Homo sapiens: one gene and its partners. The protein of the gene in region 2 purifies or fractionates together with the protein of the main gene of each other region. This does not show direct contact. Each region holds a gene or a part of one and is shown on either strand. Other genes may lie near its edges.

Region 1 (3,500 bases), on a different chromosome or scaffold from region 2:
TGGGAAAACTGAACACAGACTGGGAGCTAAGGAATCTGTGCTTATTTTGTGAAATGTGAACAGGCACTTGAGCTATGTGGTGGAGAAGCTGCGTTAGTGATGCACACGGCACCTGTGAGGGAAATGACGGCGCACTGCATTATCTGCTTTACAACATGCCCAAGTTCTCCCCGCCCTCCAAAGTTAAAAAGAAAAGTGGCCCCAGGCAGGCAGAACACGCATGCCAAGGGCTGGTCAGCGCTGAAGCTGGCAGTCGCTCTGCTGCCTGCCCCTCTTCTGTGCATTTTTGAGCTTTTCTATAACACCAAGTTTTAAGACAAATAAAATTCTATGGCTTAACATGTTTACTGATTGACGGGGAGGTGGAGTCTCAGCTCTGCACCTACGGCTGCGCTGGATGAATGGCTTCCCCTCCCGGCTCCAGCCTCATCCACTGTGAATCAGCCAGGCTCTGAAGCCCGCAACACAGCAGGCGTGTGCTGGACCCAAGAATTCCTAAGGCTTTGCGTGTGCTTACTTCTTTCTAAATAAATTTTAACTTATTTTTTAGAGACAGGGTCTTGCTCTGTCGCCCAGGCTGGAGTGCAGTGGTGCAATCGTGGCTAACTGCAGTCTCAAACTCCTAGCCTTAAGTGATCCTCCTGCCGTGGCCTCTCAAAGTGCTGGGATCATAGATAAGAACCACCACGCCTGGCCTGTATTTACTTCTTATAACGTCCCTCTAATGTCTATTTTATGTATGTTTCATAAAGTACAGAGTGAGTCAGGACCGTGGCCATGTAATTTAAACACGTGATTTATCAACAGTGTACATATATTGGAGGCCTATGCTTAAAAACTGTTTTTACTAATGGGGGTGCAAGTTCAAAGAAGTTTGGTAATTATTTGGCTAGACAATGGGTTGGTTCTAAATTTCCTAATCAGCTCTAAAACTCTAAGCCTCATTCCCCACTGACGTAAATCATGGAAGACTAAACAAAACACTCCCACTGTACTACAGCAGCGTTCTGTCCTTGCACCCCGGCCCCGCCCTGACCCACAGAAGACACAGAGCTGCATGGCTCCATCTCCCTCGGAGCTGGAGGAGCCGCGCGGCCCCGTCTCCCTCAGAGCTGGAGGAGCCGCGCGGCCCCGTCTCCCTCGGAGCTGGAGGAGCCGTGTGGCCCTGTCGTGGCCCCAACTCCCACAGAAGCCACAGATTTGTTTTTATTCCATTCCTGATTTTTCCCACAGCCCAATTTCTCTAAGGCCTGTACTAACTGGCTGACTTCTGAGGACAATATCTGGCTAGTTTCTAGAATGACCTGTCATGTACATTTCAGGAGCGATCATCTTTTCGGTTAAAATCAAAAGGCAGGTGCGTTTAGAAGACACAGCCCCTCCTGGCTGACCACACCTCCAAGCACAGGAACAAACAGGGAATCAGGCATCCTTTGCAGCAAGCACCACCCTCCTGCCACGAACGCAGCACCGTCTCTGAGGAAGTGACAAGACTTCACATTTATAGATTTCTCTATATTTGACCAGACAATTTTCAGTGTCTGCCTACATACAACGCACACACACAGAACGAAAAAGAAAAAAGATACAGCAGGAAATAATTCTCAGTATTTTTTGAAATACTATTTCAAACATTGTTTTCTGAAACAATGTTATCTAAGACTGCAAAGGTTTTTAATTCAGAAAAGCACAAGAGACTCCTATTTCAACAATGGCAATGGCATCCCACAACTGCTGGCTTCCCTGTGTGAGAAGCAAATCGGTGAGTTACCCATTTCCTCACTCTAGACACCTGTCCTAAACTCCTTCCCAGGAGACTCCAGTTCCCGTCTGTCGAGCTCTAGGGGACCTACTGGGCCCGAGACACCTGGAAGTACCTACTGCTAAAGCCAGATTTCCTGTGAACCCCAGGGCAGGGAGTGAAGCCAGGCTCAGTTTAGAATACATTTACACGGACTTCTCTGTTTAAACACGAGCTTTTAAAACAATTTCGGTTTGTTCTTGAAAGACATTTTCAACCTGTTCTCATAGCTACTGGAGAATAGCTGTGGGAAACATAATCGACTTCCCAAATGACATGACACAAAGCCCGGCCGGCCGCGGGAAGAGCACAGGGGCGTGGGAAGAGCACAGAACCACGGGCCTGATTCTGACTGAGACCTGAGTACCTTCACCCTTTCTTGCCAAAAATTTAAGTCTGTTAAGGAGTAAAATGGGGCCAGGTGCGGTGGCTCACACCTGTAATCCCAGCACTTTGGGAGGCCGAGGTGGGCTGATCACTTGAAGTCAGGAGTTCAAGACCAGCCTGGCCAACATGGAGAAACCCCGTCTCTACTAAAAACACAAAAATTAGCCGGGTGTGGTGGTGCATGCCTGTAATCCCAGCTACTTGGGAGGCTGAGGCAGGAGAATCGCTTGAACCTGGGAGGCGGAGGCTGCAGTGAGCCAAGATTGCGCCACTGCATTCTAGCCTGGGTGACAGAGCAAGACTCTGTCCCAAAAAGTAAATAAATAAAAATAAATAAAAAAAAATTACCCAGGTGTGGTGGTGCACACCTGTAGTCCCAGTGACTCAGGAGGCTGAGGTGGGAGGATCAACCTAAAACAAAAAAATAAAAACAAGAAAGGAGTGAAATGTACGTCTTGGGTTTTCACTGTGACTGGCTCCTTGGCCAAAGGGCCGACACACGTTCGCAGCCTGGAAGGTTGAGGCTGGCTTCCCAGGGGTCCCGTGTGACTGGACTTTGTCAGAAAGACGTCTCTGTTTGAAAGATTGTGATTAAATTTTTCCTCGATAAAACTGGAAGATGGGGAGCCAAATGCACAACTGTGGGATGACACAATTCCGTTTTCCTGTAACCAACATGGAGATGTGAAAACTACACTTTCTTTGCTATAAAGTTTGTGAGATAAGGATTTAGGCACCTGTGCACATTTTCAAGTTATGCCCTTCTAGGAAAAAATGCTTCTGGCTTGCAAATCTGTATACAGAAATCAAAGGCATCCTCATAACCCCTCGTGGGTGAAGGAAAGTGGAGAACTGACACACATTCGATGATGTGTTAAAAACGGGTTTTGGGAAAAGCTGAAGCATGGCTGAAATGCCATGAGCACGCGGCCCGGGCCCCTCCCCCGCTCCCTTCCTTACCCCAGCTCCGTTTCCTTCCCTCTATGTATTCCAGGAACTGCTTACAGGTTTCTTAAAACAGTTTACAAAAATGACTGTCAACAGCCCCACCTCTCGTTCTGAGGACGGAGAGGGAGCCTGACACAGGACAGGCCGGGCTGAGAGCACAGTGGCAAGTCCCCGTGCCCCAGGCCAGCTTTGGGGCCATAGAAGCCGCCGGAAACGATCGAGCCGGAGCAAGTGCCTCCAGGGGTGAGCTGAGGCCCGCCCTGCATGGCACGGCCGCCTGGTGGGGGCAGCCCTGTGTCCCAGAAATATCTGGGGTGCTGAGTCCAACACACACACTGACAGGGACCACTCACCTTCAAATGAA
Region 2 (3,500 bases):
CAACCACTGGATTATGACGGGAATAAATTATAGTCTCAGCCAGGACCCCTGACCCAGGGAAGGAGGGGCCTGTGGGGAAGAGGGTGAGGCCGCCTTCCCTCCTCCAGCCAGTTGGCCAGAATCCGTGAGCAGAGCCAGGAACAGCCCTCCCTCCCACGGCTGGTATCGGGGCTCCCACCAGCTGGACTGAGTCCCACCCTGTTGCAGCTCTCAGTTTCTCCATCTCACTGAGGAGTGGAGGGGGAGATTAGGAGGAGTGTCGCAGAGACTTGGAGGCGGCAAAGGGTCAGCAGGAGACTAACTCTGGAGGCAAATGACCAAAGGGGACCAGCAGAGGTATCTTCCTGCGGCTGTAACCCCTAAGCCTCCAGGCCCCTTCCTCTGGGGCTGGGGTCCCCCTTGGATTACTGTTTCCCAACTTTGTGCCTCCAAGCCTCTGTACCTGCCGTTCTGTCTATTGGAAAAAAATGTCCTTCTCCTGCCCCAGCACTCACTCACCCCTCAGAACTCTGCTCAAGTGGCCCATCACTATCCATCTTCCCCACTGACCCTCCCCAATTTTCCAGGTTTGTACAGTATAGTGAAAGCAGCAAGAGGCTGTAGACCAGAGGTTCTCAATTCAGGGTAATTTTGCCCCCATGGGACATTACGCAACGACTGGAGACATTTTTGATTGTCGAGACTGGGGAAAGCGGGGAGATGCTACTGGCATCTAGGGGGAAGAAACCAGGGATGCTGCTAGACACCCTACAATAACAAGCCCTGCCCCCACAATAAGGGTTATCTGATCCAAAATGTCAATGGTGCTGAGGCTGAGAAACCCCAACACAGACAACAAGATCCTTTGCCAATTGAGCCTAGAGCCTGACCTGGCCCCTGCCCCAGAACCCAATCCCCTGTGGGCACCCTGGGCCTTGTACCCAAGGAAGCTCCAACCTGGCTTAACTCCTGTATTTGCTGGCGCCTGGCCTCAGGATCTCAGAGTATCTTCCCCTGTACCCCCACATCAGCCCTACCCAGCCTCCAGAAGTCAGGTCCTATAGCACACCCCATCTGCACCCCACCAGACATGCCATCAGCTAGTGGCCTCCCGAGAGGACAGAGGGCTCCACCTTCAGGTACCTATTCTGGCAAGACTGGACTTCGAGTTAGGTCAGACCATCATCTGAGGATGGAGAGGCAAAGGGACACATAGTGTCCCTACACCCACCCTCCCCATCTGACCTTTCCAGCCTGTGACACAGCCCCTCTTGCTGCACCCTCTACATAACCCCAGTGCCCATCTCACCAAACGTAGGGTCTGGACCCCAGGAGACACCCAGGACATACACATTTCCTTCCCCTACCCAGGCCAGACCCATCTCTTCCACAGCCTTGTTAGTTCAGCCACCCGTCCAGATGTTCAGTGGGCAGGGTGATGAACAAGAGAGTCACAGGCTCTGCCTTCGAGGAGCTTACAGAGGGTGAACAGACCCACCGAGCTCTTGGCTCAGGATGGCCCAACCAGAACTCATCTGCCCCAATTCCACTCCTCCTCCAGGGTGTCCAGTCTTGGGGACAGCACCACCATGTTGTCAGTCACCAAGCCCGCAAACCCTCCTTAAATGCTCCCTTGTCCTCATCCCACACATCTAACCCATCAATAAGTTTGAATCTGACCTGCCTCCATCCTCACTGCCACTGTGTTAGTAAGACCTCATCACTTCCTGCCTCTTTGGTGGGCTTCCTGCCTTCAATCACTCCCAACCCATCCCGCACACAGACCAGTGCCACCTTTCAGCACATAAAAATGCAAATCTGCACTTTTGTTTGCCACTTTATTTCACAGCAGGCATTCAGACAGTGTTCCGTGAAAGAATGAACGGATGGGCAATGGACAGATCAACACATGGATATTGCTTCTCTGCTTAAGAACCTTCAATGCTGCTGTATTGCCCTCAGGAAAAAGTCTAAAGTCTTTAGCCTGACATCCAAGGCCCATGATGCTGACTCTAAACCAACTTACCAACCTCATTCCCTGCAACTCCAGCCCACCCATTCTGTGCTTCTAACAGACAGAGAGGAGAACAAGGGGACATCAAAGAGATGCAGAGGACATGCCCAGATCCTGCAGGCACCAAGCTCTTTCTACGACAACCTACAGTCGATGGGAACAGTCTTTTCTACAGAAACGTGGCGAATGGAGAAGCAGAAGAAAGATCCTGGTGTAAGTCCCAGGACATCACCCGGAAGCCTATTTCACACCTACAGTAGCTGACGAGCTGTATGTCATTCCCCATCCACCTCTATCATCCACTCCAGCCAGAAACTCAGGCACCATCCTTGACACCTCCCCTCCTTCATGCCCCACATTCAATCCTTCACCACGTCCTGTCTACTCTACCTCCCTAAATAGCACTCACATCCCTTCTCTCCACTTCTGTCACTGCCTCCCTGGTCCAGGCCTCCACAATCTCTCACCAGTGCACACTGGATCATGTCATGCCCCCTGCTGACACCCCCTCTATAGCTCTCCACTGACCCTGCATCAAATCCAAGCTGCTCAGCCTGGTCCATAGGACCCCTGTGCACCCCTGCTCCTGGCCACTCTGTGGGGCACACTCACCGAGTCTTTGCTTCTTCACCCCGGTCACTCTTGCTGGATACTCAGCACCAAGGGCCGGGCACCAGGGCCTCCACTCCTTCCTGGACAGAAAGGAAAGCATGAGAAAACATCAAGAATTTCATCACAACAGCATATGTATTGACACAGAAAGACATTAAAAATTTGCTGTTTATGCAGAAAAAAAAGCAGGTTATGGAAATGTTCATGTAGAACCATCCCCATCTGGTAAAAATGCCCATCTTTTCCCTTCACTCCCTCGCTCATTCATTTTGATACTCCCTAAGCACCTACTATGTGCTGGGCGTCCTTCCAGGCACCAGCCATATAGCTGTGAGCCACACAGACCAAGTCCCTGACCTCAGCAGTAGACTCTGTGGCCCAGCTCCTCAGCATGACCCCAGAGCCAAGCAGAGTCGGCCCCTCCCACCTCTGCAGCCCTACCTGCCCATGCTCTCCTCCTGCCAGAACGGGAACTTCCTCTTCTGATCCTCAAATGTGCCAAATTTCTTCCTGTCTCCCAGCCTTGCCAGTGCTGAATGCCACTGCCTGGCACAGGCTACCCATGCTCTTCTGGCCAACTTACCCTCGGATCTCAAGTCCAGTGGCACTTTCTCAGGGAAGCCTTCCACAATGTCCCAGACTACCTGCCTGGACCTTGGCTTGGAGCCGTGACCACAAACATGACTATTTATATATTTTTACAATTACTGAGTCACTACCATAAGCTTGATAGGAGCATGGACTGTGGCTGCCCAGCTCATTTCCGTATCCCCAGCGCCTGGCTGACAGCTGGCACATAGTAGGTGCTCAGTCAGCATACACTGAATGAGTGGATGAACGCATGAATGAGTTCAAAGAAAACAGCCCAGCCTGGAAGAACACACCCCAACATACA
Region 3 (3,500 bases), on a different chromosome or scaffold from region 2:
AAGCGGCAGGTGGCACACCATTTCATGCGCACCTGGATGCCCTTTATCTCCACTGTTTTGTAAAGGGGAGCTCGGAAATCATCTTCCTTGTCCTCATCCTCCTCAGCTGTAGAGAGGAAAAGTCAATTAAAAACAACTATGCCAGAACTGTAGTAAGTGCTAGGGATTCAATGATGTTTAAAATATAGCTTCTGCCTTTGAGGAATTCACAGTCTAATGAGTGAGACTAGGAACTAGGAACTATAAGACTGTGAGGTCAGGTCTTTATACAACACTATGGGAACATGGATGAGGGAGCAATTTATTCTGCATTGGGAAGTGAGGTTCGAGATAAAATGACTCAAGAGGTAGCTCTTGTATGCATCTGCTGGTGTTATTTGGTTTAAGTATATGAATATATTTTAAAGAAATAGTTTACATATCAAAGCACATACATAATGAGTTTGCATAAGAGTTCAGTATCTACATTTATATGAGTGAACTATAGCAATCCAAGAGAGGAACTAACATCAACCTTTTTTTCCAGGCACGAATCCTTTGCCCAGCCAACCATGGTGGCTCACGCCTGTAATCCCAACACTTTGGGAGGCCGAGAAGGGCGGATTGCCTGAGCTCAGGAGTTCAAAACCAGCACGGCCAACATGGTGAAACCTCGTCTCTACTAAAAACACAAAAATTAGCCTGGTGTGGTGGCATGCACCTGTAGTCCCAGCTACTCAGGAGGCTAAGGCAAGAGAATCGCTTGAACCCGGGAAGTGGAGGTTGCAGTGAGCTGAGATCACGCCACTGCACTCAAGCCTGGGCAACACAGCAAGACTTCATCTTCATCTTAAAAAAAAAAAAAAAAAAAAAAAAAACTTTCCCAAAATGTCTTCCCCTACTCTATGAATTTTCTCTACATATACGTATTTCAGTATTATTTGTTGCACAAGCATAAATGCCCTTTCTCTCAATTTTCAGCTATCAGAAACCCACCATCCCATTTCAAAACTTAAAAGACATTATTTGCCTTCTCATATACAGTTAGCAATTTTTTTTTTCTTGAGACGGAGTCTTGCTCTGTTACCCAAGCTGGAGTGCAAGGGCGTGATCTTGGCTCACTGCAACCTCCACCTGCCGGGTTCAAGTGATACTTCTGTCTCAGCCTCCCAAACAGCTGGGATTACAGGCGCACGCCACTTCGGCAGCTAATTTTTTGTATTTTTAATAGAGACGGGGTTTTACCGTGTTCCCCAGGCTGGTCTCAAACTCCTGAGCTCAGGCAATCCACCTGCCTCAGCTTCCCAAAGTATTAAGATTACAAGCATGGGCCACCGCACCCAGAGCAATTTTTATTATTAACCTAGAAAAAAAAAATGTGGGAAGGAAAAATTAAATAGATGATAGTGTGGAATTAAAAATTAAGTTTTCAAATTTTACTGATTTCTTTACATAGCATTTTTTCATATTTACATCACAAGAAATGCTAGGTAAAGAACTGTACAGCTGGGTACGGTGGCTCATGCCTGTAATCCCAGCACTTTGGGAGGCCAAGGAGGGCAGATGACTTGAGGCCAGGAGTTCAAGACCAGCCTGGCCAAAATGGCGAAACCCCATCTCTACAAAAAATATAAAAATTAACCAGGGGTGGTGGCACACGCCTGTAATCCCAGCTACTTGGGAGGCTGAGGCAGGAGAATGGCTTGAATCTGGGAGGCAGAGGTTGCAGTAAGCCAAGATCATGCCACTGCACTCCAGCCTTGGTGACAGAGTAAGACACTGTCTGGAAAAAAAAAAAAAACACACACACACACAAATATATACTGCAGATACATGGTATACATAAATATACACATATATTTTTTAAGTCTTCAAAATATTGCAAGGATATATACCACAATATAACAGTAGTTAGCTCTGGTCTGTGAAATTATAGGTAATGTTTTGCCTTTTTTGTACTTCGTACATAATGAATGTGCACTACTTATTGAAATCTTTAAATAAAAGATTTTTTCTTTTGGTCAGGCACAGTGGCTCATGCCTGTAATCCCAGCACTCTGGGAGGGTGAGGCAGGTGGATCATTTGAGGTCAGGAGTTCCAGAGTAGCTTGGCCAACATGGTGAGACCCCATCTCTACTAAAAATACAAAAATTAGCCAGGCACGGTGGCACGCTCCTGTAATTCCAGCGACTCGGGAGGCTGAGGTAGAATAATTGCTTGAACCCGAAAGGCAGAGTTTGCAGTGAGCCGAGATGGAGCCACTGCACTCCAGCCTGGGCAACAGAGAGTGAGACTCTGTCTCAAAAAAAAAAAGATTTTTTTCTTTTAAAGGGAAAAAATTCAAATGCTATTTTTCTTTTAAGAGAGTTTTGCTCTATCACCCAGGCTGGAGTGCTGTGCTGCGACCACAGCTCACTGCAGCCCTGAACTCCTGGGCTCAACTGATCCTCCAACCTCAGCCTCCCAAGTAGCTGGAACCGCAGGTGGGCACCAGCATGCCCAGTTGCAATGCTCCTTATTTTGAAATGTCTGATCCTTCTACATCATCATCTACCAGAAGTGATCTCTTTGATTACTCTTACACAATGTATTTGTTTTTTGTTTGTTTGTTTTGAGATGTAGTCTCACACTGTCGCTGGAGTGCAGTGGCGCAATCTCAGCTCACAGTAACCTCCACCTCCCGGGTTCAAGCGATTCTCCTGCCTCAGCCTCCCGAGTAGCTGGGATTACAGGCATGCGCCACCACGCCCGGCTAATTTTGTATTTTTAGTAGAGACAGGGTTTCTCCATGTTGGTCAGGCTTGTCTCGAACTCCCAACCTCAGGTGATCCACTCACCTGGGCCACCCAAAGAGTTGGGATTACAGGCGTGAGTCACGGCACCCGGCCCACGGTGTATTTGTTTATAGAGGTGTCTTCCTATCTTCCTTTCTAGTCTGAGCTATTTGAAAGGAATGACCTTTTTATTTTTTATTTACTTTTCTTCAGATGGAGTTTTGCTCTTATCGCCCAGGCTAGAGTGCAATGGGGCAATCTCGGCTCATCACAACCTCCACCTCCCAGGTTCAAGCAATTCTCCTGTCTCAGCCTTCCAAGGAGCTGGGGTTACAGGCACGTGCACTACCATGCCTGGCTAATTTTTATATTTTTAGTAGAGACGGGGTTTCGCCATGTTGGCCAGGCTGGTCTCGAACTCCTGACCTCAAGTGATCCGCCCTGGCCTCCCAAAGTGCTGGGATTACAGGCGTAAGCCACCACGCCCGGCCAGCAATGACCTTCTTAAAAACCCCAAATGACCATCATAGTGCCTTCCATAATACATCAATAAATATTTGATGAATGAACATTAAAGGCTCATTAAAATAGCCTTTCTTGGCTTTAGGGACACAAAGTTCTTTTCCCTCACCCAATCTTTGAAGGGAAGTCACAAACAAAGCACAATGATGTAGGCTTTGGGAGCACAATGAAGTTCTTTTTTTCTTTCTTTTTGAGACGGAGTCTTGCTGTTGCCCAGGCTGGAG
Region 4 (3,146 bases), on a different chromosome or scaffold from region 2:
AAATTCTGAACTTGTATCTGTTTTGCACTCCCTTTCCCACTTGTAAGTCTCAGTTCTCCTATGGGAATTAAGGCTTTTTGTTTGTACTGGAGCCAATGTTAGAGAAAACAAGTCAATGTAGGGAATTCAAAATTAAGGTAAAATCAAGATCCTTGAAGGAGCTGATTCATTTTAGTAAATAGGATGACCTGCACTTAGACATGAATTCTGCTTAAACTAGAATTTTACTTACCTTTATTTAAAGAAGTCACAGATATTTTTTGCCTTGCTCACTGCTGTATCCCTAGAGTTCAGAATAGTAGGCACCCAGTAAATCTGCAGAAACAATGTACAACTTTTATATCCACTAAAGGAAGATCGTTTCTTACTTAGGAAAGTGATAAGAATGAAGGATGTTATAAAATTGTTTTAAAGGTGCTATAACAAAGCCTTCATCTTACTAAGAGAACTGGGATTTACTGTTTGTGTATTCAAATTTCACCTGCATAAGCAATTACACATATAGTACCTGACAGTTTTATTATACTTTAGGGGAAGAGATGGCTAGTGACAAGGAGAATTCAAGATTGTTCAAATCTTTACAGAAGATTTTTGATACTAGCAAATGTTTCTCAAAGATAAACTAGACAAGTTCAGTATGGACAAAGAAACAAAGAAAAGCATTATAATCAGATGTCCTACGAAAGCTACAGTGATTCAACATGTGCTTTAATTTATACTGCTTAGATCCTTTGAGTTCAGATGTCTTGAGTTTTTGAGGACAGTAAAACAAGTAAAACTGGGATGAAATTAAAGCTATGTGGCAAATTAGTTTCAGTTAAATCAGGAATATCTAATACAAAGCTTACAAACTCCAAAATAGTTCAGCCAATAGAGTAACTTCCCAAATGCTGGATTTAAGCTTTCATCACAAATTTAAAAAGGTAATAATTCTTCTAGATCTCAACTCTAGGCTGTTAACAAGTAGCAACTCCTTCATATTAACTTTCTGCTCCCAACTATTTCTGAATCAGATCTTGCTGCTATTTTTTTCTTATTCTAGAAGCTACTGAGCAAGGAAAATACCTTGATTCATTCTAGATAGAAAACATTTTACTGGCCAGGCGCCATGGCTCGCCTGTAATCCTAGCACTTTGGGAGGCTGCCCCAGGAGGATTGCCTAAGCTCAGGAGTTTGAGACCAGCCTGGGCAACACGGTGAAACCCCCATCTCTACTAAAATACAAAAAATTAGCCAGGCGTGGTGGCATGCGCTTTCTAGTCGCAGCTACTTGGGAGGCTCAGGCAGAATTGCTTGAATCTGGGAGGCGGAGTTTGCAGTGAGCCAAGATCGCGCCACTGCACTCCAGCCTGGGCGACAGAGCGAGACTCTGTCTCCAAAACAAAAACAAAAACATTTTACCTAAGAAATCAAGTATCTTAAATTTTGGAGAACTGAAAAGGTTGAGAATTTCTGCCCCAGTAACAGATCGTTCTCTGACTTAAATAATTCTCAATGTTCTACCAAGTTAACAACACACATTAAGAAATCTGACTCAAGCTCTTTTTCCCATGTGACTATGTTACTTGGCTGTATCATAAACTAGGACTAAGTTCCTACAGTTCAGTCTTGCAAGGGAGAACCAATTCAGGACACTGCCATAGAAAATATTTACTCCCTGAAAAACTTCTATAGGCTTACTGTTCCTATTTGTGACTGTAGTATCCAATTTCCCAGAAATATTCAAATCAGTGAGAACAGCATCAGTCTGAGACAGACTAGTCTCCCCTCCCCACTGAAAACCCAACCACAAGAGCACAGCCTTTAGACCCACTATTTCTTTTATATCCCGAATAACTGTAAAGTGCAGTGCTTTATAACCCTCATTTAGAAAACTACTCCTTTTAGAGACTAATAAAACACAACCTAACCAAAACTACCCTGACCTTGGGAGTCAACGAAGCCCAGCATCTTCTCTGAGCAGTGATAGCCAGTCTCCTAGAGGGCCCAATGATATCCACCTCCCAGTATTCACATCCTTGTGCAGTCCCCTCCCACACTATACCAAGCTGATTCAATGGTTGGTCTGTGTGACTCATGGAATATGGCAGAAATAATGTCACCTGAGGCTACGTCATAAAAAAGTATGGTTTCTGCTCACTTTCTTATATCACCTGCTCTAGGGGAAGCCACATACCAGTTGTCCACCAGGCAACTGGTGCCCAAGGAACTGAAGCCCAAGAGCCACGTGAGCATCAGGCACTGTGTGTGATACCCACACAGTGAGGAACAGAAGCCCAAGAGCCACGTAAGCAAGACATCTTGGAAATGGCTCCTCTAGCCTTGTCAAGCTTCAAGATGGTACAGTCCTGGCTAACAGCTTGACTGCAACCTTCTGAGATCTCAAGACAGAACCACCCAGTTAAGCAGCTCCTAGATTCCTGATCCAGAACTGTGGAAGGTAATACTTGTTTGTTGTTTTAAACTACAGTAATAACTGAGACACACTAGACAAGGATCACTCATTGCTTCTTAAATGAAAAAAGCAAAAATCTAATTATAACAATTTTGACTAGAAATATTAAATACTGAATTCTGTTAAAGAAAAAATCTTAAATTCATGTTTGATAAAAAGCTTAAAAGCCAATTCCCAACTCATTGAACTACCGTACTCCTTCCTTACAAGGAAGAAAAACAAAACACCTGAATATGTTGTCTGTAGCCAATAAACATTACTAACTAGATTGCAGCCTAAAGTGTCAAGTATTTCTAATAATTACATTAAAAATACAGCAGCAAGACAGTTCCTTGGATCTTACTTTTTCCCTCTCATTGGAACTGAATTGTAGATATTGGGCACTGTACCTAGCAAGTCACAGAAGATCTGAATTAGGATGCCTTAATTACACTTGGCCTATTTTAATGATTTTAAAATTAGATCTTAAATGTGAAAGTAAATAAAAGCAGTAAGGGAAACACTACACAATGAGTATGTACGGTTGCTGGCTGCAGAATTCAACAATACAGTTTTGACATTTACAGATATCACAGATCACTACCAGAACATCACATAAGTTTATTTCAGATGTAACAGCAATGTTAAAATTGACAAGTTTAATTCTTAACTGCACCAAGTAAACTTAGCCATTTAAGTATTTTTTTAAGTT
Region 5 (3,458 bases), about 120 Mb from region 2:
ATATTTATATTTCATGTAAAGGAAAGAACATGGACTTTGGGAGGCTGTGTTACTTACCAGTTGGGTGACCTCAATCAGTTGTTTAACTTGTTCAGGCCTCAAATTTTCACGGTAAAATAATATCAATATTATAGGATGGCTGTGATAACTACAAGATGGAGTGTGAAGATGGTACATGGATGGACACATTCCATTAATGTTAGTTCTTATCATTGTCTTATACTTTTCTCCATTTGATTAATATTAATCTTCACTTCCACTTAAATTGTTTGCTCTTTAGGGAAGATCTTAAATCTTGTATTCCTTGTATCCATCCCTCCAGCACTTAGTTTGGGGACATAATATGTACTTATTAAACATGAGATGGCTTACTTTTGGGGTAGACTTTCTCGGTATTTAGGTGCATCCAACAACGTTTCTAGATTTTGTTCTACCCCATCCTGCTGAGCTCAAGGAATCATCCTCGGGCTGGTGCAGTGGGAAGGGACCAACCTGTGAAATGGCCATCAGAGATTTTATTTATTTTACTAGAAGGTTTCAATCTCTATGACAGCTCCAAGGTGGTGGGATGGGGAGGGCAAGAGAGAAAGCAGGGAGCCTGGGGGAGGCACATAAGATAGTGGTCTCTGGCAACTAAATAAGCTGAGGGAACTCCTGGACCGAGCTCGTCTGGGTTTGAAAAATCCGCCGGCTGACTTCCACCCTAGTCCCGGCCTCGTCCTCATCTTCTTCACTCGACTTGTGGCGGGTGTTCTGGTAGAGCACAGCACACACACCTGTGAGCCAGGCAGCCACAGTTCCCGCGGCGAAGATGCAGAAGCCGATGAGCAGCAGGAAGATGTAGTCTTTGTGGTCCAGGTGCGTGATGCACATGTATCGGAGTGGGTTCCCCACCCGGGTGATGGGCCACCCTGTCAGCTCTGTGGGCTCCACACATGTGGCATTTAGATCATCTAAGAAGAAAAACACAGCAGGCAGGGTGCTGAAACAGCGTGACTCCCAGCGTCCTAAGGCCAAAGGGGATCAGGAGGGACCATCTGCACCCTCAGTGCTCCAAGTGTGGTCTGTGGGCCAGCAGCATCGACATCACCTGGACCTTGTTAGAAATGCAGAATCTCAGGACCCACCTGTGACCTCCTGAATCCAAATCTGCATCTCAACAAGACCTTCAGGGTATCTGTTGCACATTGGAGTTTGAGAAGTACTGGGCCTGGACTGTTCCTTGTCCCCAGGCTTTGCTGCATTCAGGCCATGAAAATGCTTCTTAAGGATGCTCAAGGAAGGAGAGGCCACAACAGGGGTGGGGAGGTTGGAAGGTTAGGCAAGATTGCCATGGAGTGTTGACATCTCTCTGTTCTTTACCAGTCACCTCCCTCTTGCCCCTCCCTTGCCTCCATCCCGACTTTCCCTTCACCTTGTCCCTTTCTCTTTAGCAGTAGCTGAGTCCAACCTGGCATCACTAGCATCCCCCGAGAGCATTGCAAGCCACTCAACTATAGGCTTCAGGAGACGAGATTCTCCTGAAATGTTTACTGTGTGTTCTACCCGCTCACCACTTTCCCCCCGGAGCAAGTCAGGGGAGCCCAGGGTAAACAGGTTGCCAATAGGGAAAGCAGTTCTGCTTCTTGGTGGTGATGTTGGCCATCACTGGCTGATTATGTCATCGACATGAGTCTTCAGTCAGTCTTAGTAGCTGACTCAGCTTCCTGGCTACTTCTCTGAGCACCTCCCCATATGTAGCGCCATGGCCTTCACTATATAACAGAAAGAAAAGTGGGCTCTGGAGCTAGACAGGCCAGGCTTCTAATCCAGATTCTGTTACTTGCTAATTTTGTAAACTTCAGCAGGATACCGGATTCTGTCTCTGAATTCCGTTTCCTCATCTTACCAGTGCAAAGAATGACACTTCTCAGGGTAGTTGAGAGAACTGACTGACATAGGTAAGAAGGCACAGGTGATTGTGCCTCAAGCACGGAATCCTCGGAGCCCTATCACTGCCCCTACATTTTTCTAACTCCATATACTCTTCCATGCTGAGGCTGAGTGCTTGTGTGATGTGCTCAGGTGAATGTATCCAGCACACACTAGATCACTGAGCTCCGGCTCAGGGCTTGAGACAACCATAATCAAAATTATAATAGCAGCCAGTATTTGCTAAGTGCTTACTATGCACTAAGTTATTTACAAATATCTCATTTAATTCTAATAATAACCTTGATGCACATAATATTATTTTCCTTGTCTTACAAATAAGGAAACTGAGATTCAGGAGATCCCATAACTTGAAGGTTTTAGATAACTGCAGAATCTAGATAGAAGATAGAAGACAGAAGACAGAAAGCCAGTGTGAGCTTGCTTTGCGTAAGTGGGATTTGCAAACAGGAGCTATTGTGGAGAGGAGTTTCCTCTAAACTTCAGGGCAGGAACTGCCTGACTAGTGAAAACATCACTATCCTTGGTGACCCAGGATGTTAGGAAAATCAGGTTCAGTTAGGTAAATCCTAATGGGGGCTGGAAGCAGCATTCAAAGAAAAAGTACAGAAGTAAGTTGGCTGGGGAGAAGGCATTTGGGCTTATGGGTGGCTGGAAAGAGCAGTCCTCTTCACCCGGACACCAATACTTGCCTCTTGCTTCTGTATCAATGCACCTACAGCAAAGTCATTTTGTTTTGTTCAGGAAGATGGTGTGCAGTGTGTAATGCTGTTTAGGACTCAAGCTTTTAGACACAAGAGGGGAAGCCAGTGCACGAACTGTGTCATATCCACTGTTTGTAATGATTACAGAGGAAGGGAGAGGAAGAAGCCTCTCTCTAGACAGTGTGGGATGGTGGCCCTCAGGGCAAACCTGCCCCACCAGAGAGCTCTCAAGTAGAGGGAAAGGAGTTGAGGGCTGAAGTTGCAGGAACACAATTATGCCTCTGTACCTCTTTCTAGTCAGCCTGGCTTGAGGACCTCTGTGGCTTTGCCCAGGAGGCCTGGGCATGGGGCTCCCATGAGCAGGGGAGGCGCCTGGGAGCTCTCCAGGAATTCTATCGAGAGAGAGCTCAGGTCACCTGCCCAAACTGTGGGAGACACATGAATCTTCAAAGAAAGATGTATTTGAGAAAGGCAAACATGGGATTCGGAGGGTCTGGGATGTGTCTAGGGGGGTTTATCTCATTCTATTTTTAAAAAGATTGGGCTTTCAAATTGCAGCTTGGGCGGCAGAGATGAGACTAAACATCACACACGTTTCCCCATTTTGGAGCATTAACTTTGAAAGGAGCAATTAGGCAGTGATTTTAATGCATTGTTAGGCTGCTAAGTGAGGGATGTGGGTGGCTTTGTTGGGAGGGAGGCCTGGGTTTCTCTCCCACTGAATTATCTCCCCCTCTTCCCAGTCGCAGTCACTGCCAAGATTTGGGCTCTCCCCTCCCGGGCTCCCTATCTCCATTGTTTCCTTTTCCCAGCTCGGGGCCA
Region 6 (3,500 bases), on a different chromosome or scaffold from region 2:
AAATTTTTTTTAAGAGATAGAGTCTTGCCGTGTTGCTCGGGCTAGTCTCAAACTGCTGGCCTCCACTGATCTTCCTGTCTTAACCTCCTGAATAGCTGGGATTACAAGTGCGTGCCACTGCACCCAGCTTGTAGTTCACTTTTAAAACACAGAGCTACTGAAACTATAAAGAGATAGTAGGTATCTAGCAACTGTTGGTAAGGAAACATAATTATCTTTCTCTTAAGGATTTGCTTTGAGAGGAAAGCAAAGCAATCCACAAAACCTAGAGTTCAGATGTGCTGTTAACAGTAACAGTGATACACATTTGTGTATCACTTTACAGTTTACACTCAGCACTTTCATAGCCAATACATTTTGTCCTCGTAATGAACCTATAAAGTATATATGCATAAAAATTTCCCATTTTCTACCGTAACACTTATCAGAAAGCTCAGGAATAGATGTTTTTTATCAAACGTTTCTTCAAAATTCCTTAAGTCAAAGTAACGGGAATTTTAAGTTGCATGGTTTCTTCAGATATACACATTTACATTCTTAATTACATAAGCCAATAAAAACAGTTGTTATACATACTCAACAGGAAAAAGTTTGGTGTGAATGTCTCCCATGCTGGTGTGGATAATGGCACTGTCCGAAACTCGTTTAGGTCCTTCAGCTTGAGTAGCTGCCATGACTTCTTCTTTAGAAGGTTTCTCATTAAAAACATCTCGATCAGAATCTGCACTTTTCGTATCTTCTGGTTCTCGTTTGGTAAACTCAAGGAGGAAAGTAAAAAGTGAGTCAACGAATTAAAGTTTTCATCTGGTAAAAATTTTATGAACAATAGAATTTCTAATGAAGTACTTAAGAAATGTAAGAATTCACATCAGAATCCTTATTTCAGGAATCACTTCCCATACAGGATGTGTCAGGCAATTAAATTATTTTTACATTGTCTAATATGAAAAGGATCCACATAACATACTGAACACATTGATTTCAAATGGAATTTAATTTCTTTGGTTAGAAATTTTCTTGGGCAAACATTTAACAAGAATAATTGTTTCATTTGTGGTAGCTCTCGACTTATGCCTTCTAGTAAGGCCTAACATGCCACCTGTTTGTTGCTCAGTTCATTATTTAGATTGTTTGGATTTGAATTCCAGTTCTGCGACTTTGGGGATGTGAATTCATTTCTTCTCTTCCCTCACTCATATATGATGATAACAGTACATACCTTGCAATGAAGGTAGTTGTGAAGATTAAACGAATAGATATTAAGTCCTTGGAGAACAGTGCCTAATACATAGAGGGTACTATATACATATTAACAGTTGTTATTACTACTATGAGCAGGACCCCATGCTAGGTAGAATAAGGATTCACAAAAATGAATCTGAAATGGATCCTTAATTTTTTTTCACAGTCCCAACTGACCTAGAATCTAAACCCTGAAGCATAGGAGAAAGAATGCAAATTTTCAGTGAAGTTGTAGAAATCTCAGATCCTTGGGGTCTAGGAAGAATTGAGAAAAACCTTTCAGTTGTTAAAACTCTGGACTTCTCAAGGCCTGTTTCTTTAAGTAGAAATGCTCTCTCCTAAGCAACCTCTATCTGATGTAACTTAATTATGGGAACGTAAAGCTAGTGCCTCCATCCCTATCTTGCCTAATGTCATTCCTTGATCTGCTTGGATAGATTCCAAATAAACAACCAAGTTAGGATGCTATCACCTTAACATCCTATTCTCCAGTTTTCAAAGGAATGGCATGTCTGTTGTACTATTTGTTTATATGAATTTTTTAAAGTTATGACTTAGCTGATATATGGATTTGTAAAATCATACTTTTATTTCATGATGTTGGATCTGAAAAATTATGATTTAGCTCATATATGGATTTGTAAAATTATACTTTTATTTCATGTTGGATCTGAAAAATGGGACACAAAATTCATATATATGCATACCATTTTAGTTTTGCTTAAGAATATGTACTAGTAAGACTCAAAGAAAATTCGTAACAATGTTAGCTGTATAAAGCTACAGTGAATGACTTATTTTGTTTCTCTATTTTTTCAAACTTTATAATGAATATATATACTTTGATCAACACACAAGTAAACTTGGAAAAGAAAAAATATAAGTTTTTTGAATAAAGTGGATGGAAAATTAGTGTATGTGTTTTGAGTGTATATCAAGAAATATCCTTTTTTGCCTGTTTTTGTTTAGCAATAGGGTCTTGCTCTGTCACCTAGGCTGAAGTGCAGTGGTGTGATCATAGCTCACTGCAACCTTGAATTCGTTGGCTCAAGAGATCCTACCACATCAGCTTCCAGCATGGCTGAGACCACATGTGCACACCACCATGCCTGGTTAGCTTCTTAAATTTTTTGTAGAGATGAGGTCTTGCTATGTTGCCCAGGCAGGTCTTGGTCCTGGGCTCAAATGATCTTTCTGCTTGGGCCCCCGCAAAGTGCTGTTTTTACAGGGATAAGCCACCATTCCTGGCCAAGAATTATCTTTTATGGGTAATTTTTACTTCCTAACAAAGTTAAATTAAAGGTAAAACGATTAATTTTTTTCCTTCATATACTAATAAATTTTTAGTAATAATTTTGAAAGGTGTAAATGAAATTCTCATCTTAAAAGTATTTACCCATTTAGATGGAAGGTTGGTTGGGGTAGGGAAACTGCTATTTCATACATTTATCAAATGCTGTTAACCTTAATAGCATTACATCAGTTTACAATGTTTTGGAGGAATGAATGAATATACTGTAATGCTGTAGTCATTTCCTAACTTTCTGGATTTAACAGTGAAGAAGACATAGTGCCTGTATTTATGGATTTTATCTTCAGAAGAAGAGCACAGCGTCAGAGGCCAAAAAAATAAATTATTGATGTTCACACAAAAAGTGTGACACATCATATGACAGGGGAAGCATAAGAGAAACATAGCAGGCACATCTAACTCAGACTTGATGTTAAAAAGGGCTTCCAGGCTGGGTGCGGTGGCTCACGCCTGTAATTCCAGCACTTTGGGAGGCTGAGTCAGGTGGATTACCTGAGGTCAAGAGTTCGAGACCAGCCTGGCCAACATGGTGAAACCCTGTCACTACTAAAAATACAAAAATTAGCTGGGTATGGTGGCATGCACCTATAATCCCAGCTACCCAGGAGACTGAGGCAGGCGAATTGCTGGAACCCAGGAGGCAGAGGCTGCAGTGAGCTGAAGTCACGTCACTGCACTCTAGCCTGGGCAACAGAGCAAGATGCCATCTCCAAAAAACAGAGGGGCTTCCAAACTGAAACTTGAAGTATGAGTTAGGAGTTGGAGAGAGGTGTGTGGCTGGTAGAATGAATAGCCTGTGCAAAGGCCCAGAGTTTAAAAAGCACACTCAACTACATGTGAACTTTCAGTATGGTTCGTGTAGCAAATGAATGAAAAATGAAGAAAGATAAAGCTACAGAAGTGAGGAGGGCCAGCCAGCATAGATAGCTGGGGCACCATTAAAGGG
Region 7 (3,500 bases), on a different chromosome or scaffold from region 2:
ATGAGTTGCCTCTAAAATTCCTCATGAAGGAGACAATCTTGGAACTTTGAAGAGGACGATCAGAGGATGCCTCATCAATCTTTCTAGACCATCCTGTCTGATCTTAAATTAATGCTAATGGTAATTCAGATGGTTTCCATTATTATCCATTATTAATTATCATTAAGTCAATTTTTAATGTAAAAGGAAATATTCTAACAAATCTTTAAAAAGCTATCAAGATAGCTAAGTTGAAGTTCTAATATTGATTTCCAGTGAAATGTTTGTTTACTTCCTCCTGAAAGCTCAATAAAGCGACAGTAAAGGGATAAAACAAATAAACCTTAAGCCACAAAGAATGAAAATGAATGACAGCAGACAAGTCATGTCAATAAAAATGTTGAAAGCTGAAAGCATAAAAGAAAAAAGAAAAAAAAGATATAAGGAGAAAATCACCAGCCTGTAGACAACCAAAGGGGGAAAAAAAGTCATGTACAAACAAGGAATCAGAATGGCATCACATTAGAAGATAATGGAGCAATGCCATCAAAATGCTGAGAGAAAAATGAATGCTAACCTAGAATTTTACACCCAGATAAATTATCAAATATGAGGATGGAATAACGATTCTGAGACACGTAAGATTTTTTAAAAATTTATCTTTTTCTTCAGATTTATGAAACTGTAGATCTAGCATGTGATAAAGACAAAGGCAATTCTTCCAAGATGATTATGACTCTCAGGACATTTGTATGAGTGCAACCAGTCTGGAATAGAAAACTAATGAATGATGGGCAAGAAATCATCAAAAAAAAAAGAAAGAAAGAAAGAAAGAAACTTGGTAAGTTACCTGGTGAGTTTGAAGACACAGAAAGACAATTATACTGCTGTCAGAGTCTGAGGAATGAATGAGCAGTAAGTATGTAGAAAATTAAGGAACCCTCTCTCCTGCCCCAAGAAGCATGATCAAATTCAGGGAAAATAAAAAGTTGTTATACAAGAATGGAAGTAAAATAAAAGTATACTACAATACTCAAATGTAACTAATGTTTATGTTAATTATAATAAAAAACACTAAATATCAATTTAACCAGAAATTGCTAGAACAGGAGAAGAGATCATGTGTGCAGTGTGTAAATATTCAGAAAAAGCTAAATATTCACCTTCCATGTAGCTATTATCAATAGGTATTATCTAAAACTGCAAAAAATAAAACAAATGAAAACAAACCATGAAACAGCAGTATAAGCAAATATTTAGAATAGATGTTCTGCAAATGTGGTCCAGGAACACACCCGTTCAGGGGGTCCACAAGGTCAAACTTTTTTCATAATAAAACTAAGACTGTGTTAGTTTAAATAATAAAACTGTCATTTTCACTTTCATTCTCTCGCTATGTTTATATACAATAAAAATTGTACAGTGCAATTTTCCAGAAGCTAAGCACCATATCACAACAGACTGAATGAAGAATTTGATAGGAAAATCCGGCTATCTTCTATTAAGCTATTCAATAAAGGGCACTGCCGAATGTAAAACAATGTTACTGTTAGTCTTCTTAAATCTTTTTGGTTATTTGGAAATATATATAACCTACATAAAGCAAAAGCTCTTTGGGATCCTGAACAATTTTTAAGACTATAAAGGAGTTCTCAGAGCAAAATGTTTAACAACCACTGATTTAGAGAAATAGGGAGTTAAAAGAGAAACATGGAGGGCCAGGTGCTATGGCTCAGCCTGTAATCCCAGCACTTTGAGAGGCCGAGGTGGGTGGACCACTTGAGGTCAGGAGTTCCAGACCAGCCTGGTCAACATGGTGAAACCCCGTCTTTACTAAAAATACAAAAATTAGCTGGGAGTGGTGGTGGGCACCTGTAATCCCAGCTACTCGGGAGACTGAGGCAGGAGAATCACTTGAACCTGGGAGGCGGAAGTTGCAGTGAGCCGAGATCATGCCACTGCACTCGAGCCTGGGTGACAGAGCAAGACTCTGCTGCCCGCCGCACCACGCCCTACTGGGGCAAAAAGTGAGAAACATGGAGTTAAGATCGCCATGTATGGTTGGGCAGGTTGTTTCCAGTACAAGGATGCCAGGCCAAGGGAATCAGTAGGTCTAGAAACCAACTGATGCTCTATTCTCCAAACCACCAGAGAGGGGATCTTTTTCTAAATTGCACAAAGGCAGAAGAGGGTCTAGTGGTCACCATGGTAATAAAAGACCATAAGAAGCTAATAAGTGAATATGATTGCTTTGAATTAATCTATGGGGAGAAAAATTAGAATAGTGGTTACCTCTAAGGAGAACAAATTGTAAAAGGACACAAGATAACTTTCTGAGTTGATAACAATGTTCAGCTTGATTGGGAGTTAGAGCCCAGGTATACAGACTTAAAATTATCTAACTGTACACTCATGATCTATGCATTTTACTGTATACAATGATGCTACAATTTTTTTAAAGTATGTTCCTCTGACATAGGGCAGGACTATATATTTGCATATTAAAATTTAGTATTACTTTGGTAAAACTCAAATTCTATTAACACCTATTATGTAATGAATAAATAACATTTTTAAATGAAATCGGTACAGCTACTGAATCCTAAGGGTTTTTATGTTGCAGGAATCAATCTTTACCAGAATGCCTTGCTGTGAAAAAAGTACCAACAATATTGTTACTGACATGTGAGGCAGGGATAAGCAGTAACAGTAATATAAGAAGTAATATTCCAAAACAAGAATGATGAGGAGAGAAAACTGGGACTTTAATAATAGTAGTTGATCAAGAGGTCAGGAGTTCGAGACCAACCGGGCCAACATGGTGAAACCCCGTCTCTATTAAAAATACAAAAAATTAGCCAGGCATAGTGGCAGGTGCCTGTAATCCCAGCTACTTGGGAAGCTGAGGCAGGAGAATCACTTGAACCCGGGAGGCAGAGGCTGCAGTGAGCCAAGATCACACCATTGCATTCCTGCCTGGGTGACAGGGCAAGACTGTTTCTCAACAAAAAAATAAATAAAAATAACAGTAGCTGAAATCTACTAATTTTTAACTCTGTTCCAGGCATTGTGCTATTATTGTTACAGATTATTATTTTCCCTATTTTGCTGATGAAAAAACTGAGACACAGAGAACTGAAGTAACTTACCCAAGGTATCAAAGTAAGTGATAGAGACAAAATTTAAATCTTTTGAAGAATGACTGTATAACCTGAATTCTGCTAGTGCTGCTGCTTCCTGAATAGCAGCAGCCCCTCCCCAACAATTCAGTGAGGGTACTGGGCAAAAAGGAGAAATATCATTCCTTTGATATTTTTCCCAACCATTAAAAAATATAAAAATCATTCTTACCCCATGGGCTACAGAAAAACAGCAGGCAGGCAGTATTTGAAGATATAGGCTATAATTTGCCAGTCCTGCGTTCCACTTTAAAGGAGATTATAAAATAGTGGCCCATGCCTTCAGTGTTTTGGGCTAAAATTGTTGTATAAATTAAAATAGTACTGATTTTTAGCTTGCCT

The links.
Region 1: the proteins of PTPRF (region 2) and DNAAF5 fractionate together in Homo sapiens (co-fractionation; one large-scale study listed by BioGRID). This does not show direct contact.
Region 3: the proteins of PTPRF (region 2) and ZDHHC5 purify together in Homo sapiens (co-immunoprecipitation; one large-scale study listed by IntAct). This does not show direct contact.
Region 4: the proteins of PTPRF (region 2) and NAA50 fractionate together in Homo sapiens (co-fractionation; one large-scale study listed by BioGRID). This does not show direct contact.
Region 5: the proteins of PTPRF (region 2) and LRRC52 purify together in Homo sapiens (co-immunoprecipitation; one large-scale study listed by IntAct). This does not show direct contact.
Region 6: the proteins of PTPRF (region 2) and PPWD1 fractionate together in Homo sapiens (co-fractionation; one large-scale study listed by BioGRID). This does not show direct contact.
Region 7: the proteins of PTPRF (region 2) and ITM2B purify together in Homo sapiens (co-immunoprecipitation; one large-scale study listed by IntAct). This does not show direct contact.

What each region holds. Positions count from the first base shown.
Region 1 is NC_000007.14:757,699-761,198, reverse strand, and holds part of DNAAF5 (dynein axonemal assembly factor 5), read right to left. Parts: intron 1-3,500. UniProt on the Homo sapiens protein: Cytoplasmic protein involved in the delivery of the dynein machinery to the motile cilium.
Region 2 is NC_000001.11:43,537,383-43,540,882, reverse strand, and holds part of PTPRF (receptor-type tyrosine-protein phosphatase F isoform 1 precursor), read right to left. Parts: intron 2,686-3,500; 5' UTR 2,606-2,685; intron 1-2,605. UniProt on the Homo sapiens protein: Possible cell adhesion receptor. It possesses an intrinsic protein tyrosine phosphatase activity (PTPase) and dephosphorylates EPHA2 regulating its activity.
Region 3 is NC_000011.10:57,685,114-57,688,613, reverse strand, and holds part of ZDHHC5 (palmitoyltransferase ZDHHC5), read right to left. Parts: intron 107-3,500; coding exon 1-106. UniProt on the Homo sapiens protein: Palmitoyltransferase that catalyzes the addition of palmitate onto various protein substrates such as CTNND2, CD36, GSDMD, NLRP3, NOD1, NOD2, STAT3 and S1PR1 thus plays a role in various biological processes including cell adhesion, inflammation, fatty acid uptake, bacterial sensing or cardiac functions.
Region 4 is NC_000003.12:113,715,958-113,719,103, forward strand, and holds the end of NAA50 (N-alpha-acetyltransferase 50), read right to left. Parts: 3' UTR 501-3,146; downstream 1-500. UniProt on the Homo sapiens protein: N-alpha-acetyltransferase that acetylates the N-terminus of proteins that retain their initiating methionine. Has a broad substrate specificity: able to acetylate the initiator methionine of most peptides, except for those with a proline in second position.
Region 5 is NC_000001.11:165,561,000-165,564,457, reverse strand, and holds the end of LRRC52 (leucine-rich repeat-containing protein 52 precursor), read right to left. Parts: intron 954-3,458; coding exon 634-953; 3' UTR 501-633; downstream 1-500. UniProt on the Homo sapiens protein: Auxiliary protein of the large-conductance, voltage and calcium-activated potassium channel (BK alpha).
Region 6 is NC_000005.10:65,580,296-65,583,795, reverse strand, and holds part of PPWD1 (peptidylprolyl isomerase domain and WD repeat-containing protein 1), read right to left. Parts: intron 759-3,500; coding exon 577-758; intron 1-576. UniProt on the Homo sapiens protein: PPIase that catalyzes the cis-trans isomerization of proline imidic peptide bonds in oligopeptides and may therefore assist protein folding. May be involved in pre-mRNA splicing.
Region 7 is NC_000013.11:48,239,706-48,243,205, reverse strand, and holds part of ITM2B (integral membrane protein 2B), read right to left. Parts: intron 1-3,500. UniProt on the Homo sapiens protein: Plays a regulatory role in the processing of the amyloid-beta A4 precursor protein (APP) and acts as an inhibitor of the amyloid-beta peptide aggregation and fibrils deposition. Plays a role in the induction of neurite outgrowth.